Linked DNA regions of Homo sapiens: region 2 is linked to region 1. Evidence: fine-mapped expression QTL. Tissue or cell type: gastroesophageal junction. Region 1 holds a variant in brackets; the other region holds the start of a gene. All regions are shown on one strand. Distances are from middle to middle. Region 1 overlaps DPP10 (dipeptidyl peptidase like 10). Region 2 holds the start of DPP10 (dipeptidyl peptidase like 10).

Evidence for each region. PIP is the estimated chance that this variant, and not a neighbour inherited with it, causes the effect.
Region 2: it holds the start of DPP10, and the variant in region 1 is the best candidate, but not a certain one, in a credible set for the expression of DPP10 in gastroesophageal junction (GTEx, PIP 0.68).

What each region holds. Positions count from the first base shown.
Region 1 is chr2:114,776,039-114,781,038 of GRCh38, forward strand. The region is part of intron 1 of DPP10 (dipeptidyl peptidase like 10); the gene reads left to right. Among named protein-coding and RNA genes, the nearest start is that of DPP10-AS3, 55 kb to the right of the region's middle. The variant A/G (reference allele first, on the strand shown) is at 2,426.
Region 2 is chr2:114,439,224-114,444,768 of GRCh38, forward strand. It overlaps DPP10 (dipeptidyl peptidase like 10), which reads left to right and starts at 3,418. Exons shown (of 26, transcript NM_020868.6): 1 at 3,418-3,615. The coding sequence starts at 3,556.

The sequences.
Region 1 (5,000 bases):
CAAGAATGTCTTCCCAGAGATGGTGAAAAACAAAATGAGTTTTGAAGATATGATGGGAAAATACACTGATTTTTAGATATAGCTCTAGATAAAAATAAAGAGACAAAGTGTTACAGGTAAAATTAGCTGCAGATACATCTTAGTTGTCATGTAGTTGATCCAATTGAGTGAACAATTGAACAACAATTAGAACACAAACAAACCTCCATGATCTGAGGCCTGCTGAACTCTCTTTTCTGACAGCCCTTCCCACTGCACATTGGATATAGAATGATGCCATGGCATTCCATGCATCCATGCCTTTGAACACACTATCTCCTCTGCTTGAATGACCTTTGCTGCTTATGTAGAAGGAAAAAACAGTTACATTCATACCTAAGGTTCCAGAGCTTCCAAGACCTTGTCAAAGAAAATAGACTCCTAGCTTTTCTCTACTGAATGCAATCTCCGTTATCAGGCCATAAGCTCCTTAGGAGCTAGCGCTAGATCTGAGTGAACACTGCCAGTAGTGTGATGAATTTGGCTTTTATAGGCTCAAAAGAAATATTGTTAAATGTACAACATTTTTTGAGCCATTTGTTAAATTTTTGGCAGCTTGAAGTCATCTATGGTGGGAGCTGACAAACACTACATTAAAAAAAGATCAAAAAATTTGTTGGATAAATTACATTAGAGTAATTTTTAAAGTCACATATTCAAGTTGTAGTGATTTAAATTAAATAAAGTTAGTGCAGATTATAAGAATTGATGAGTATTGAATTGATGAGTATTGGAAAAGGGGATGAGTGGAGACACCTCTCTGAGCAGTGTGAGTTTTGAAAAGGAAATCAAATTATTAGAGAAGATAATGGTAGCCAAAAAGACTTTCTAAGGATCAGTGTTCTCATAATTAAAAAAAAGAAGGCATAAGAATTTCTGCCAAACATACTTTTTCAAAAATAAAAAAGATATATGAAAATGTTTTATAAACCATGTAGTACATAACTATATAATATATACATTATATAGTGTATAGTTGCAATTATTGGACTAAAAGCAGTTAATACAGGCTTTACATATGTTAAGACTTTTATTCAGAAGTAAATGAAATGTACTCTTTGAGAATGGGTATATTTTATTGTTTTTTATAACCATATTCTCATTTATTTTTGAAACTCTTCTTAGAATAAGAAAAGAGTACAGGAAGACCAACAAGTCACATTCAAACCTTATAATTCTGCAGCCTAGGAAACACTGTCTTGTGCTGGAAATGGCTTCCTTTCTTCCTGGTCCAACTTTTTTGAACTGCCCATGGATTTTGCACTGTACAAATCACAATCCTTAGAAATATATTACCCACATACATTTCTGAAGAGGGTTTTCAGGGCCCTTTTTTGAGTATTACTTTTGGATATATTATTCCTACTAAATTATATTTCTTCCAGAAAAAGTTTTGAAAAGTTGGCAACCTCCCTATTTCAGTCCTTCATATTATGCCACTTGTTACAGTCATAAACAGCAAGGAAAGAAGGAAGTTTGACCAAATGCAAATGGCTGGGAAGAAGTAGCCCTTTCAGAGTTGCTGAATGTCTCGTGTGAAAATGCTTTGTGGCTGAGCTTAAGAAATAAATATAAAGTAGTATTTAAATCCTCATCTCAAAGCTTCTATCAGTAATAGATATGAAGCCCAAAGCAGTAAATGTTTAAATGACTACTTTACATCTCTTAAATGCAGTGTTATGTCCTGGCTATATGGTAATGACATCATTAAACAGAAATCCTTTGAGCCGCAGAACCAAGATGCTTTATAGTAAGTTCTATGAAGTTACATAGTCAAAGAGTTCACTGTTCTTTAAGTTAGACTCATATCCGCAATTTTATGACAGGTTCTGCTTAAATAATTGTAGGGTAGTGGTAAAGCATGGACTTTAGGGTCAATAATCTGAAGATCTAAATTTGAATTTGTCGTGTCTTTCATTAGTTAGCTGACATTCTGGATTTCAGTTTCAAGACCTTTAAAATGGGAATAATAGCAATCATCTTAAACATGTCCAAGAAAGAGTGAGACAATTAAATAAATACATTACTAAGAAGGGCTATAAATGAAATGTTATTATAGGTATTAGCATCATCATTATCATTCATTACCCTAATCATTATCATCTTTAAGCAATATTAAGGGATGACACTTACAGATAGACTGAGTCTTACTCTCTGGGTCAAGAAGGTTATTTCAAAATGCAAGTTACTAAAGTATATTATATATGCAAAACATTTGGCTTATTAAAACTCAAGTGTCATGGCTCATAGCCGAGACCTGCACTTTCATATAAATGTGATTTGATCATATGTATCATATTCAAAAATATCTATTAGTCCTATAACGTTAGCCACAGTGGCTAATTTCTATAATAGCTTCACATTTTAGTTACTTACCAACATAAAT[A/G]TTTATTTCTTATTTATGTTACAGTAAACTTAAGTTTGCTTGGGTGGAAGGTTGTCTCTTTTTCACGCAATTATTTAGAGTTCCAGGCTTCATCCATCTAATGGCTTTGTTAAAGTCTAGAGTCTTGGAGTGTACCACTGACTCCGTTAATCTGACCGGCAGATAAAATAGTAAAGAAATCATGGAAGCTTGCAAGGAAAGTACATGAACCAGGCCTGGAAGTGGTATATACCACTTCCATGAAAAATCCTACTGGTTTAAAATCGGTCGCATGACTGCACCTAATTGCAAAGGAAGCCAGAAAATGTAGTCCACCTATATGCTCTGATGGAAGATAAAATGGATTTGATGAGTCTTGCCAGCCTCTGCCATAGGGTTCTAGCATATTACAATAAATTATGAATTTAATTGACCGAAAGACAAAGCGCAACTTAATGGTGTCACAATCCCATGTTAGTTATAAAAAATAATGTATAATCTATTCTCCCCTTTATGGTTACTGTAAAAATTAGTAGCACCCTAGTTAATTCAATGCCAGAAAGCAGCTGTCTTGAGAGTTCATGGTCTTAAGCTTTACATGCCTGGGCTCTATTTTTGGTCCAGTGGAGTTGGTACCTCTGGGGCCTGAGTAATCCCGTGTTGCAGCAGACAGAGTTCCTCTGCTGCAGTCAGGCCTTCTCATCAGTGTATACCCCTGTGAAACTTCCAGACTACACAGAATAACCTGGCTTTCTCTCCTGGATGTGGATGTGGACACTAAATGCTCTTCATCTGAACGAAGAGGTTTGTGTTTCATAAAGATTAAGCTAACTATGAGGAAAAAACAGGCAACCAGACTCTTCTGAGATTTTCTGTCTGCATATAGACATCAATATAAACATAGGTATATGTTTGTTCAGTATGGCTTTTATTATTAACAGAACAAGAGCCAGCTCCCTGAGAGCTACCCAAGGTCCTAAACCACCTCTGATCAAAGTTATCTCATATCTAGGGTAGCAGAGGACTCCTGATTTTTCAGAGGACCTATTCCCGTCATATCTTATAAAATGTAATGATTGACTTCTTACATACAAGCTGCTAATTTTGATATGGTCTAAGCTGATATCAGTTTACGCTGAGGACTTTTTCATATCCCAACATAACTTGACCTTTCATCCCATTTGATTGCATGGTCTGTTCATGACCAGCCCTGACCTGTGATAACCCTCCTTTATAATATTCTGGTGTTAAGGATGCCCAACCTTGCGCTAAAGTAACCTGATAGACCCAGAAATGCTGCCAGTACAGCTATTTTATCAGGTGGGATTTAGATATTTATGCTTCTGTGATCATGTTTATCAAAAATTCCAAAAACATTTTCTCATGAGGATAACATAAGAAAGGAGGGAAGGGGCTGAGCACGGTGGCTCACGCCTGTCATCCCAGCACTTTGGGAGGCCAAGGCGGGCGGATCACGAGGTCAGGAGATCGAGACCATCCTGGCTAACATGGTGAAACCCCATCTCTACTAAAAATACAAAAAATAAGCCGGGTGTGGTGGTGGTCGCCTGTAGTCCCAGCTACTCGGGAGGCTGAGGCAGGAGAATGGTGTGAACCCGGGAGGCGTAGCTTGCAGTGAGCCGAGATTGCACCACTGCACTCCAGCCTGGGTGACAAAGCGAGACTGCGTCTCAAAAAAGAAAGGAGGGAAAGGAGGGAAGGAAAAGAGGGATGATTGATTTTCCCTGCCTTACTCACAGGATCAAATATGATAATGCAGACAAAACTGTTGTGATGATATAGAGTATTTTTGTCATCTAACTCATCTAACTCCATCAAATAATAGGATAGCTTGGTTTTGAGAAAACAAGTGACAAATTATCATACTTATTTTTCTCATGAAATATCCTTCATGTGTGATCTTTATATTCTTTGGAAAATCTAAAAGACTTACAGTTAGTCAAAGTAAGCACCAACCTAAGTTCCAATCTAATTTCAGAAGTCTGAATCATTATTTTAATTCTTTAGGGTACTGGAAGGAATTTAGGTTCAAGATAGCTGTGAACAATGTGTTTATATAGTAAAACAAGATTTATTTATTTGTTATCACTAAATTCCATTTAAATTTTACAATAGCTATTATTACAATAACACACTATTAAATTACAACTGCATTTATGTAGATACAACATTCCTCAAAAATGTTGTTTGGTATTTAAAGGGCATTATTATGATTATCAGAAAGAAATTTTGTTAAATTGCATTTAAGATATCTTAAATGTTTATCTAGTTGATTGGTTGATTTATTGACATGAGTAGAATATTTTAAATTAGTAGGCTACCTAGTTAAATTAATGAATTTTTATCTTTAGTATCATGAATGAAAATGTTGCACATGTTGAGAATGAATATGAGACAGTCTTTAAGTCAAGAGCATTACAATCTGATTGGGAAGATTATTCTATTGAATATCATTTGTCAGTTACTGTGAATAGAATGGTGAATGAGACATTTAATTTGCATGTACTTGTCATATCTTTCCTACTAGGATATAAGCTTCAAGTTTCAGAAGATGAGAAATGTGTTTAACATCTCC
Region 2 (5,545 bases), 340 kb before region 1:
AACACAGATGATAGGTGTTAAGATGAGGAGATGATCCCTCAATGGTCATGGAGGGATTTGAATTTTCTACAGTAGATTTCAAAAAAATCAGGGAAACAGCCCAATATCCTTTCAGATACCATTCTTATTGACTAGAGGCCTGGGCTTGCCTAACTTTGCAATCTGTAGGTCATCACTGTGACCAGCTAGTTAGGGCTTGGGCAGATGGGACTTGAAACAAAGAGACGGAAATTGGTAGTAGAATCCATCTGACACTTTGACTTTTTTTTTTTTCTAATGGGATATTTTCATTAACCCCATCCTAAATTTCTATTTCCCGGATCAAATGATAGCTGGTCAAGGAACATCGTGGGTTATATTTTCTGAAAGCGTTAGCCATCTTAATTTTTTTTGTGGGAAAGGTGGAAGGGACTCACTCCTAACTTTTCCCAAACTGTTTGACAACAACATATTTTTATACGGTTATCATAAGTGTTGATTACATTTGAAATTGGTCCTTTGGACTAAATTGTCTAAATTTTCTAGTTCAGTATGATTTACTGTATAGTGTTTCTTCAGCAGATCTAAACCTTAAAAAAAACTACTTCCATGTGACAAACCGTGATGCAATTTTGCAGCTGTTTTCATTCTAAACATATTGAGCCCAATATATCCCAATTAGAAGAAATGTATATGAATTATCCTTATTAAGCGGTATTTGTAATTCTCTAGCACTTGTCTAAATTTCTTTGGTCTCTATTTTCTTCTAGTTGTACATTCCAATTGGCTACATTAAGATACAGCAGATTTTACAAAATAATGAACAATTTATACATGTTTTAAATAGAAATGTTTAAAAATTACTATGGTTTTCATTTCCTTGATTCATGAAATGATAATATAACAGAAAGGGAAAACAAAATCCAAAATGAGATTTGGGTCATATGTTTTGCTCTGAACACTTGATTTTTCTTTGGAACTTGGAGTTTGATATAATGTGGAGCCTGGAAAGGGAGCATATGGTGTATACGAGGCACTCTTTTCTCTTACTGTGATTTTTCTCTATTTTCAAAATGCAACTTTGGGAAAAGATTTTAGGTGGATTCTGGCCACCTACCTATAAATGGTAGTGTCAATATCTTTCTTGGATCCTGCTGCCATCCAGGTGGGGGTAGAACCTTTTTGAAAAATTGTAGAAAAGGGGTGAAGTCTCATGTGATTATAGTTGTAGAAATCCAGCAACTCATACCCTCTTTGTGGTAGGCATATAAATGCTGTCTCTATCAATGTGCCTGGAGAGGGTTCCTTGAAGTACTAGTGGCTCCTTCCATCCTGTACAGTTCTTTGATGGGGATGGGATACTCTGAACTCTTGGACTGCTCTCCCTCCCTGGGCTCCCCAGATAATTTAGTTTGGAAGTTTCTTAGATACCTAGTACAAAGTGCTATCTAAGAAAGGAATTAAGCCAATTCTACTGGTATAGAACATTCATTTATTCAGAGATTATCAAACTGTAAACCACCTGATGAAATGTTCATAGGTTTTTTCATTGAGTATTTTGTATGTTTTTTACTTCATTACTTTCTTCTCTTCTCTTTATTGTTTCCCCCCTATAATTTATTTGAGTTTATTTTGCCATTCTTTTTCCAACTCTTTGATATGAATAATTAGCTTATTAATTATTAATTTTATGCTTTTCTGCATTTCTGGTATAGGTACTTAATTATATACATTTTCCTTTAAATATTGATTTAGCTGCATACTGCAAATTTTCTGTGTTGTTTTCATTATTGTTGAATACAAAATGTTTAAACATTTTTAATATACTCTTTTTGTGATTTATGAATTATTCAAAGCAATGCTATTCAAGCAAAATACAAGATAAGCCACAAATTCCAGTCACATTTGTGATTTAGAATTGTAAACTTCAAATCATGAGATTTGTTGGCCCTATGGCTGCCTCTGGTTGTGCTCAATATGATGCCTGGATATTGCTACACCAGATTCTTGCACACAGCCTTTTGCCTGGTTCTTATTGGCTCCATCTCTTTTCCCATGATTCTCCTGATTTCTCCAATACTCTTGCCATTAACTTTTGTGGCTGCAAACAGTCTGATCTTACTTCTGTCACATCCTTACCTCCACTTTGCTACTCAGAACTATAACCTTCTGAAACTTAGCCATCCTCAAACATGTGCAGACTACTTTGTCAGAATGTTTAGATCCCTTTTCTGTTTTACAAGAGAAAATATGTGTTTATAATTATGTATAAATTAATTTCACCAAACATTAATTTATTTCATTTCACATTAAAGTTTATCTGTAATATTTTAGGCTGTTCATAAAAGCCTCCTGAATGTAGTTCGTTAGTTCAATCTTATAAACCTAGCATTTCATTAGTAGGATACATTTCTGATGAATAAATACTGTTGGTTTTCAACATCAAACACTTTGCAACAAAAGTTGGAAAAGAGTGTCCTGCATTTACTCAAGACTACTGGATCTTATTTCCAACCAGGATATATTTATTCTAGTTAGTGTTGATGTGACAATGGGGACTGGTGACTCGGAAAACTTAATTTACAAATATTTATAATTTATTTTGCCTAAAATGACATTAGGGACAGAGAGGTGACCATTTGGGGAGTTAGACTGGCATGAGCTAACTACCAGTTTGTCCCAGGCATTCAAAAAATACGGCTTCAAGGAAAGCAATGGTCAAAAATAAAGGTTGAAAATAAAAACATTGTCTAGCTTTGGTGCGATATCCAAAAACTACAATAACTATTGTATTTGAAAACTTTTTAAATATACCTTAAGCTTTCTGCCACCTTACAGAAAGGACAGTCTCTTGGCTGGCTGTTATGGCTAAATTTTAAAAATATCCATAGGGAATATCAGTCCTTCAACCTATAGATATAAAACCCCCAAATTCTGAAACTGCCAACAGTCTTTTTTTTTTTTTTTCCACAGCATTTACTTGTGTTTTGATTGCAAGAAGTACCCAGGAAGGAATAAAATTTAGTAACAGAATGAGGATGTTATGATTTTTTTTTAAACTGGGTTAGGGGTGGGGAGAGGGAGAGAGAGAGAGAGAAATATTTTGCACTGGAAAAACTATAATCTGGAGAGACAGAGGAGTTGAGAGTGCCCCTTTAAACTGCAGGACTGCAATTGATCTCTGTATGTTTTCTGGTTTTCGTCCCTTTGAAAGGGGAATGAGAGCCAGGATCATTGGCTGTACTGTGGAGCTGTCACATCTCCATACTGAAAAGGTACACTGCAAGTGAATTTAAACCGTTTTTGGCTTTCTATTGCATATTGCCAAGAGCTTTGAGACTGATGAACCAAGTAAATGCTCTATTTAGGGCTAAGTGAGATACAGATTCCTCCAATCTGATAGCGTTTCAGCCTCCGGAGTGAGGAAGCAGCAGAAACAGAAGCAGCAGAAGCAACAGCAGTAGCAGCGGCAGCAGCAACAGCAGCAGCCCCTACTGAAGTCCAATAGAGGAGACTTGATCTCTAGTTCATTCTGGAACTCCGCCTGGGATTGTGCACTGTCCAGGGTCCTGAAACATGAACCAAACTGCCAGCGTGTCCCATCACATCAAGTGTCAACCCTCAAAAACAATCAAGGTAGGATCTGGTTTTTCCCTCTGCTTCTGCACATGTGTCTTCATTCATCTACCTAACACATGGGCATTGATATATCGGGGTACTGACAGTGGACATACCTACTTGATTTGAGTTTGAATTGAAGGTTGAGTCACAATAAAGCATTTGGCTCTGCATGTGTGTGTAGACTGGAAAGAATAGTTTCCACTGAACACTTCTTTCATCTTCATGACTTTTTTTTTTTTTACTGAGAATCTATCAGAGGTATATTTCCAGAAGAAAGTTTTGTGAGTGTCTAGAAGAGTTTCCAGTCCATGCCAATTTTCTTGATAGAACTGGGGAAGAATTTGCAAACTGCTAGAAATAAATAGCATCAAATTGACTACAAATCTGATAACAGGATTTCATTGTCATATGAATTTTGGATCTCTTATCCTTTTTTAAAAAAAGCTCATCCTTCATTGTGAGCATTGAACTGGTGGTTATACTAAAGTGATTATAGTGAGAGAGGATGAAAGACTAGAGAGAGAGTATAAAATCACATGTCTTTATTTATATCACCATGTAACTCAAAACCAGTGAGATGATTGGAGACACTCTTCAATGCAGGTGTTGTTTAAAATTTGAGGCTTTTCTGACAGCACATGGTTAAAGGTAAAGAACAAACTCACAATTTCACTCTTCTGTTTTAGTTTCAAGTCATGCTTATACCATTCTCTTTGTTTTTATTCGGGATGCTCTTATTTCCAAGAAGGCTTATAAACGACCAGACTTCCAATCAAAGTTTACTATATTTTGCCATTTACTTGAATTGTATTATTATCTATGTGGATATTTTGCATCTTGAGGGAAAGTGATGGATTCGTCTGAAACTCTTTTATGAAAAAAAAAAAAAAACTAAAACAAAAAACGTGATATCCTGACAGGGCATCTTTAGTTACTGCAATCTCTCATTAACATACAAGTGCATACCTTTTGCTACTATTCCTGATAAGCCTGACTTTTTATGATTTATATTATGTTTTGGTTTATGTCTCAGGCCTTTAATAATATTGCATAGACTGTAATTACAAAAGGAATATAATTTTCAACAATGTCTCTTCTTCATGAATTTACCTACCGTTTGCCAGAGTGTTTCAGTGATAGATAAACCATAAACTAAACATGTTCCTCTATTTATTAGCAGTGACTTTTAAAAGCAATGGGGTTTCCAGGGTATATTAAATGATGCATAATTAGATTCCCATCATACATAAACATAGGGAGTTAACTGAAATCATGCAGAACTCATATTCAGATAATTTACACCACCTCTAATAACAGATATGAGAATCTTTTTCAGCATTAGATTTTCTGTGCTGTATCTAAGTTTAGAAATAAAAAATGTTGAGCTTTTGGTATAGTTTTCCTCTGTGTATCAGTTTCCCACATACATCAATTATCTAAGCATATCACTGAACAAAGCCAAAATAGTAAATACATGACACTCTACATTGGGATATATAAGCTCTAGTGGGAAATATGTATTGAAGCCTAAAGTGGGATAGAGTTACAAACTGGCTGCCTACTGCTAAGTATGTCTAGAATGCTATAACAAAACCAGTGGCTTTCTGTTTAAGAGTCTGAGGTCACAGGAATCAAGCATTTATTTTCCCTTTTCTTTATTGAGTAAGCATAAATGACTACTACTTTCAGAGACTTCAAATCACTTCCTTTATTAGTGCTCTGGCATTGGCTGCCCACAAACAAACTGTGGAACAGAAAAAAAAATGTTTCTAGTGTAGAGGTTTTACATCATCTTGCTGATCTTGCAGATGCTGTTTTTTCCTTCTAACTGCAGCCATTGAGTTGAAATGAAAAGTATCATAAAAATTGGACAACCCACCACTTAACAATGTATTATATTAATGGCTTAATGAAGGAATCTTGAATCAAAGCTCTGGGTAATTTG